2 linked regions of the Homo sapiens genome follow. The protein of the gene in region 1 purifies or fractionates together with the protein of each later gene. This does not show direct contact. Each region holds a gene or a part of one and is shown in the gene's direction. Other genes may lie near its edges.

The links. The genes of interacting proteins can lie anywhere in the genome.
Region 2: the proteins of RGS7 (region 1) and GNAZ purify together in Homo sapiens (affinity purification with western blotting, with the first as the bait; one study listed by BioGRID). This does not show direct contact.

The regions. Positions count from the first base shown.
Region 1 is NC_000001.11:240,774,857-240,777,791, reverse strand, and holds the end of RGS7 (regulator of G-protein signaling 7), read left to right. Parts: intron 1-1,578; coding exon of another isoform or gene 1,579-1,629; 3' UTR 1,630-2,278; downstream 2,279-2,935. UniProt on the Homo sapiens protein: GTPase activator component of the RGS7-GNB5 complex that regulates G protein-coupled receptor signaling cascades.
Region 2 is NC_000022.11:23,094,519-23,098,018, forward strand, and holds part of GNAZ (guanine nucleotide-binding protein G(z) subunit alpha), read left to right. Parts: intron 1-728; 5' UTR 729-1,177; coding exon 1,178-1,900; intron 1,901-3,500. UniProt on the Homo sapiens protein: Guanine nucleotide-binding proteins (G proteins) are involved as modulators or transducers in various transmembrane signaling systems.

The DNA.
Region 1 (2,935 bases):
TGAACAGGAGCCTTTATCAGATAGGTCCCAGGGAGCTTATTTCCTTCTTCCATTATCTGAGGACACAACGAGAATGCACCATTGATGAACCAAGGAGAAGGCCCTCACTAGACAAAGAATCTATAAGTGTCTAGATCTTGGACTTCCCAGTCCTATAAGAAATAAATTTCTGTTGTTTATAAGCCACTTAGTCTATCGTTTTCTGTTATAGCAGCCCAAACAGACTAAGGCAATGGCCATGAGTGATGATGTATCTCCCATCACCGCTGACCCCTTTCTAAAACTGAGCCACATTAGGTAGCAAATCAAGAGTATTGCTATGACTGTGATTTATTACTAAAATATATGTTTCCAATTTTTTAATTTTTACTTATCTTCTGAGATGTACAAAAATTCATTAAATAACTGGCCCACATAATTTTATAATAGAACATATAAAATAAGACATGAAATGAAAACCAGCAGTTTTGCATTCCGATCAAACGTTTCAAATTTCTATTTTTTTTTTTGAGACAGAGTCTCGCTCTTGTCACCCAGGCTGGAGTGTAGTGGCGCGATCTCAGCCCACTGCAACCTCCGCGTCCTGGGTTCAAGTGATTCTCCTGAGTAGCTGGGATTACAGGTGCCCGCCACCACGCCTGGCTTATTTTTGTACTTTTAGTAGAGACGGAGTTTCACCATGTTGGCCAGGCTGGTCTCGAACTCCTGACCTCAGGTGATCTGCCCACCTCAGCCTCCCAAAATGCTGGGATTACAGGCGTGAGCCACTGCGCCCGGTCTCAAATTTCTTATCTCTCTAGAGTACTTGTGATTAACAGCAACACTGTTGACTTACAAGATTTCTAAAACATAAGTATGTGCTTTATGTAATCATATGATTTGTGGAATCAGAATAGAACAGATTTTTTCTTGTATTAGGGTTGGAAGAAGTCAGGTAGGAAAGAACAGGAAGACATCAACAGCTAGAAACAGGGAACAAGTAGACTTTTATCTTCAGATATATAATTGGCACCTTTTTATCCATTATTATGTAAGATAGGGAACAGACTCAATCTTGAGTTTCATGAATCACACCCTCAAAAACTGCATTTTATTTAATTAAATCGTATCCTCTACATTTCTAGATATTTATAAATGTGACATTAATTTCAGCCATTGAACAAGAATGCACTCACATTATCTTTCAGAGCAGCTTACTAAGATTTGTTGTAACATGTTTATAATCAGTTGGGAACCTAGGTGTTGCTTCATTGCTAAGCCTTGATGGAGCATTTATGGATATGTTTTATGATTTGCTAATCTGTGCTGTGAAACCATCAGTCTGTTTGCAGTGGGGAGGAAGGATTTGGGAGGGGTAGGAGGGTGGAGGGAGGGAGGATAGTTTTGTTTGACGTGTCAGTGGAGGGAGGGAGGGGGGAAGGCAGGTTGGTCATGAGGTTTGAACTAAGATGGACTTAAAGGGTTCAGTGTTGACCTTGCACAAAAATCAGCTACAGTAAATAGTTGCTACTACTAAGCAGGTTTTCAGTGATCGTACTTGATTTTCTTTCTTTTCTCTTGTTTTATATATTTTCTCAGGGGAAATCTCTCACGTCCAAGAGGTTAACAAGCCTTGCTCAGTCTTACTAAACGGATCATCTTGTAGCATGAATGCAGACTGGAGTCACTGCACACACTTTGTAGCTCAATGTTGTGACCTGGAGCAGAGGACATTAGAACAAGATGTTGCATGAGCAAAGGACCTAAATTGTTATTTTTGTGTGTACATTCCATCTCCAATGGACTCTTCCGTCTCAATGCCTCCATTCCAAACTGTTGTCTGCTTTCTTTCTCCTTCTACTATGCTGGATCTGTGTCTCTTCCTTTTTAACAAGTTCAAGTGAAGTAAAACCTTTTCTTTTTTTCCTTCTTTCTCTCTCTCTCTCTCTCAAAGCTTCAGTTAGACACACAGTTCACTGAAAATTCAGTCAGTCAAAAACTGGAAGAACTGTAAAAGAAAAAAGTATATATCAATAAGTATACATGTGGCTTCACATTTATTAAACAATAAATTCCGCACAGAAAGTTTCATTTCACCAATGTGTCACAGTCAGAAACAAACTCATGTCTTCGTCTGTTGTCTGTACATTCTCCGTTAATGTTTCTCGCATTTATTTTTATACCATATTTAAAGAAGAAACACCTTTTACTCCAAATGTATTAAAGTTGATCCCTTCTCTGTAAATTTGTGTATGTTTATATTGTTGTTTTATCTTTCATTAAAAGATGCAGAATCTCATTGCTTTTGTAACTTTTGACTTCCATGCTAACTAAAAAGGAAAATGCTGAGAAATCCACAACCCACTACCGCAGAGTTAAATTTAGGTTGTCACCTTGAAATTTATTTCAAGGTTTCAAGACAAGCTTGGATAGTACGGAAGCCAGGGGCAGATGGAAATATTTTTTGGAGGCTTACCTGAGACTTAGTAATCCTTTTTCTCCCATGGAAGAACAACACAAATTGATGTTCCACATTTTCAAAGCTATTTAAAAGGCCTTTCTGCCTCATGATGAATATGCATCTGTATATTTTGCAAATTAATATTTCTGTTTGAATTAAGCTTGAGTGTGACTTATTAAATCAGGTACTGATTTGTTCTTTAAAACACAATTCTAAAAATATCATAGCTCAGTGTCTCTTAACTTTTTGGAGGTTACAGATTATTTTGAGAATACAGTCACCTCTTGGCATCCCTGGGAAATAATTGGTTCCTGGACCTCCTCAGATACCAAAATCCACAGATGCTCAAGTCACTAATATAAAATGGTGTAGTGTTTGCATATAAACTACGTAAATCCTCCCACATACTAAGTCATCTCTAGATTATTGTAATATCTGATACAATGTAAATGCTATTAGTTGTTATACCGTATTTTTAATTAATACAACTTTAAT
Region 2 (3,500 bases), on another chromosome or scaffold:
TGGATTTCCCCGCAGCACCACGTGCAGCCCCCAGCTCCTTGGTCTCAGCCCAAGCCCCCCTCTACCTCCTTCTGCAGGAGTGAGGCAGCCCCTGCCCACTGTGCTTAGGCACCTCACGGTGCTCCCACAGCCTGAAGCCTCCACCTTGCTCTGGTCCCTGCCTATCTGCTGGCTCCTGGGCTGGCCCATCAGAGTGCCCTCAAGGGAAAGCAGGGGCCAGGTCTCCCTCCTGGTGCTTTTCCTCCCTGTGATCAGAAGTGACCCAGCTCCTGCGGGGGTAATGAGAGTCAGGGAGGCGCTCAGTTATCCCAGGGCTGGGCCGAGGCCTGGCCACCCGTGTAAAACAGGGCAAGGCTGAGCTCTATCAGTGCTGTCTGGGAGAAGGGCCCCAGGGGGCATCACAACAGGGTGACCTTATTGAATCCTAACTGGATGCGGTAGAAGTGAGTCCAGCATGGGGGCTGGGTGGGCAGAGGCCTCGCACACACCCTCCTCTCCCTCATGCACCTGGCTTCAGGTGGACTGTCCAGGCAACAGCAGACATATGTGTTACACCATGGTGTGGGCCCTACAGCGCCCCATGGAGGAGAGGGGGTTGGATGGATTGTTGCCGGCTCATTTTCCAAGGCCAGTCTCTGCTGCTTTGCTTTCAGAAGAGCTCCCTTTCACTGTCCAGCCTGAGGTGGGGCTGCGGGGAGGAGGCTCACGCTTTTCTCTGTGTTTGGCAGGTGAAGGGCTGGATGCACAGTGGGAGCCGGAGGCGGGGGGCTGCAGGGAGCACACCAGCGACCGGCCCTCCAACCCTCCAGCCACTCAGCAACATCGCCACAGCAACCAGCAACCAGACGGCAGCAGCCGAGGCAAACACAAGCGGACGGCTTCCCACCGTCGCCGAGGACAGGGAATGACTACGGCAAATCAGGCCACTTTGCCAACTAGGGAGGTGGAGTGTCACTAGTGGGGAGGGGCGGCCACCGCCCGCTGCACAGAGCGCCATGCCGGCTGGAGAAGAGGCGCTGGGGCAGGGGCTGCAGTGTGGCTCGGCCTCACCCCCCTGCTGGCACTGAGTGCCTCCAGGGCAGCTGGGCTCTTGTCTGCCTGGTCTCAGTGTCCCCTGTGGCAAGAGGGAGAGGTGCCCCATCCCGTGCTCCTTGTCTGGGCCCGCTGCTGCCAGACCATGGGATGTCGGCAAAGCTCAGAGGAAAAAGAAGCAGCCCGGCGGTCCCGGAGAATTGACCGCCACCTGCGCTCAGAGAGCCAGCGGCAACGCCGCGAAATCAAGCTGCTCCTGCTGGGCACCAGCAACTCAGGCAAGAGCACCATCGTCAAACAGATGAAGATCATCCACAGCGGCGGCTTCAACCTGGAGGCCTGCAAGGAGTACAAGCCCCTCATCATCTACAATGCCATCGACTCGCTGACCCGCATCATCCGGGCCCTGGCCGCCCTCAGGATCGACTTCCACAACCCCGACCGCGCCTACGACGCTGTGCAGCTCTTTGCGCTGACGGGCCCCGCTGAGAGCAAGGGCGAGATCACACCCGAGCTGCTGGGTGTCATGCGACGGCTCTGGGCCGACCCAGGGGCACAGGCCTGCTTCAGCCGCTCCAGCGAGTACCACCTGGAGGACAACGCGGCCTACTACCTGAACGACCTGGAGCGCATCGCCGCAGCTGACTATATCCCCACTGTCGAGGACATCCTGCGCTCCCGGGACATGACCACGGGCATTGTGGAGAACAAGTTCACCTTCAAGGAGCTCACCTTCAAGATGGTGGACGTGGGGGGGCAGAGGTCAGAGCGCAAAAAGTGGATCCACTGCTTCGAGGGCGTCACAGCCATCATCTTCTGTGTGGAGCTCAGCGGCTACGACCTGAAACTCTACGAGGATAACCAGACAGTAAGTGGGGCCGGGGGTTTTCCTCTGCTTGTTCCTGCTGTCGTGGGTTCCTGGAAGCAAGAGGACTCGTGAGGTCCAGGACAGTCTGCAGCCAGAAAGGGAACCAGGCGCAGGCCTGGCCCTGCTGCACGATAACTGAGGCAGCTCCAGCAAGGTGGGGGCAGAGGGAACAGGGTGTGGAGTGCAGGTGTCATGTCCCATGCCTGAAGTACTCAGGGTGTGGAGGCCACAGGGCAAGAGAGTGTGAGGCTCCGCCGGGCATCCATGATCAATCCATGTGATAGTTTGGCAAATCCATGAAGCTCCTGCCAGCACCAGTCTCCTACCAGCATATAGGTCCAGGAACAGCAGCCACCCCTGCAACCCCATCTTGAGTCTGCAAATCTGGCAGAGATGGGGTTAAGAGCTGTTTAGAAGGGATAATCCCAGGTCCTGGTGGAAAGGGGACGACGTAAAAGCAGGTGTTGGGATTCTTTCACAGTGGCATGGGCGCAGCCCGAGGGAGACCTGGACCCAGTGTGAAGCGGTGGGGGCTTGAGAGTGGAGTTGCTGGAGAGGGTGGGGAGCCGGGTGAAGCAGCAGGGCAGTGTGCTGAGGCCCAGCCAGGACAGAAGGTCTAGCACACGAAGGGGGCCACAGCCAGGAGTGGCAGCGGTGGAGGCCGTGGCAGGCAAGGGAGGGGCTGTCTTGCCCAGCAGGATTCCCTGAGCACAGATTTCAAGTCTGCCCTTAAGAGAGAGGCCTTTGACCCTGGGGATGGGGGAGTGGGGGCAAACAAGGAGTCACGAAGTTGTGGGTACCCTGGGGCTAGGGGAGGGTGATGCTGGGAGACAAGGGCTCAGCCTCTCCACTTGGGAGCACTGGCCTCCGAGGTCACTCCTTGCTTCACCCAGTCCTAAGGCAAGCTTTATTCTTTAGGTTCAGCGGAGAGCAACAATGGTTCTAGCTTTGGACCTGTGCCCCAGCCAGGGAACCTGGACAGCTCTAGGCAGTGGCCATGGTGCTAGGAGCCTGAGTGTTCTGAGAGAGAGGATCTTTGGCTTTCCTCAGGCAGCTGGGGAGGCGGGCTTGCCTCCCTCCCCTCCTCGCATCAGGGGTCTCCCTGGAACTGTGCCTAGGTGTTGATGGTGTGCCTGGGGGAAACGAATGACGGACGGGCAGGCAGGTGTGTACGCAGGCGGCTGCGTCCACCCTGTTCCCAGTGTGTATCTGTGTGCTCTCCAGGGTTCTGGCCCCTTACCCTGTGGTTGCCACAAGTTCAGCCCCATGTGTGGTTCTGGGCAGAGGGGACATCTCAGCAGATGAGTGAGGTCAGGCTCCCTTGATGAGGCATGGCCGTGGGCAGAGCGCTTGGGGCTGAGAAGCTGCAAGGCAAAGTGAGGTGCTCAGGCCAGACCCTTGGGACAGTGCCATGGTGGGTCTGCCAGTCACACGGGCTTGCGCCACTGGCCTCACCCATCACCACAGTGGCAGGCGTGGCAAATTCCCCGGGCACCAGGCCTGGCTCCCAGTTGCATCCTTTGACAGGCCGTGCCCACAGGTGTGCTGGACACAGGAGGCAGGATACCTGGGTCCTGAGTCAGTCCAGTTTTTCATGGAG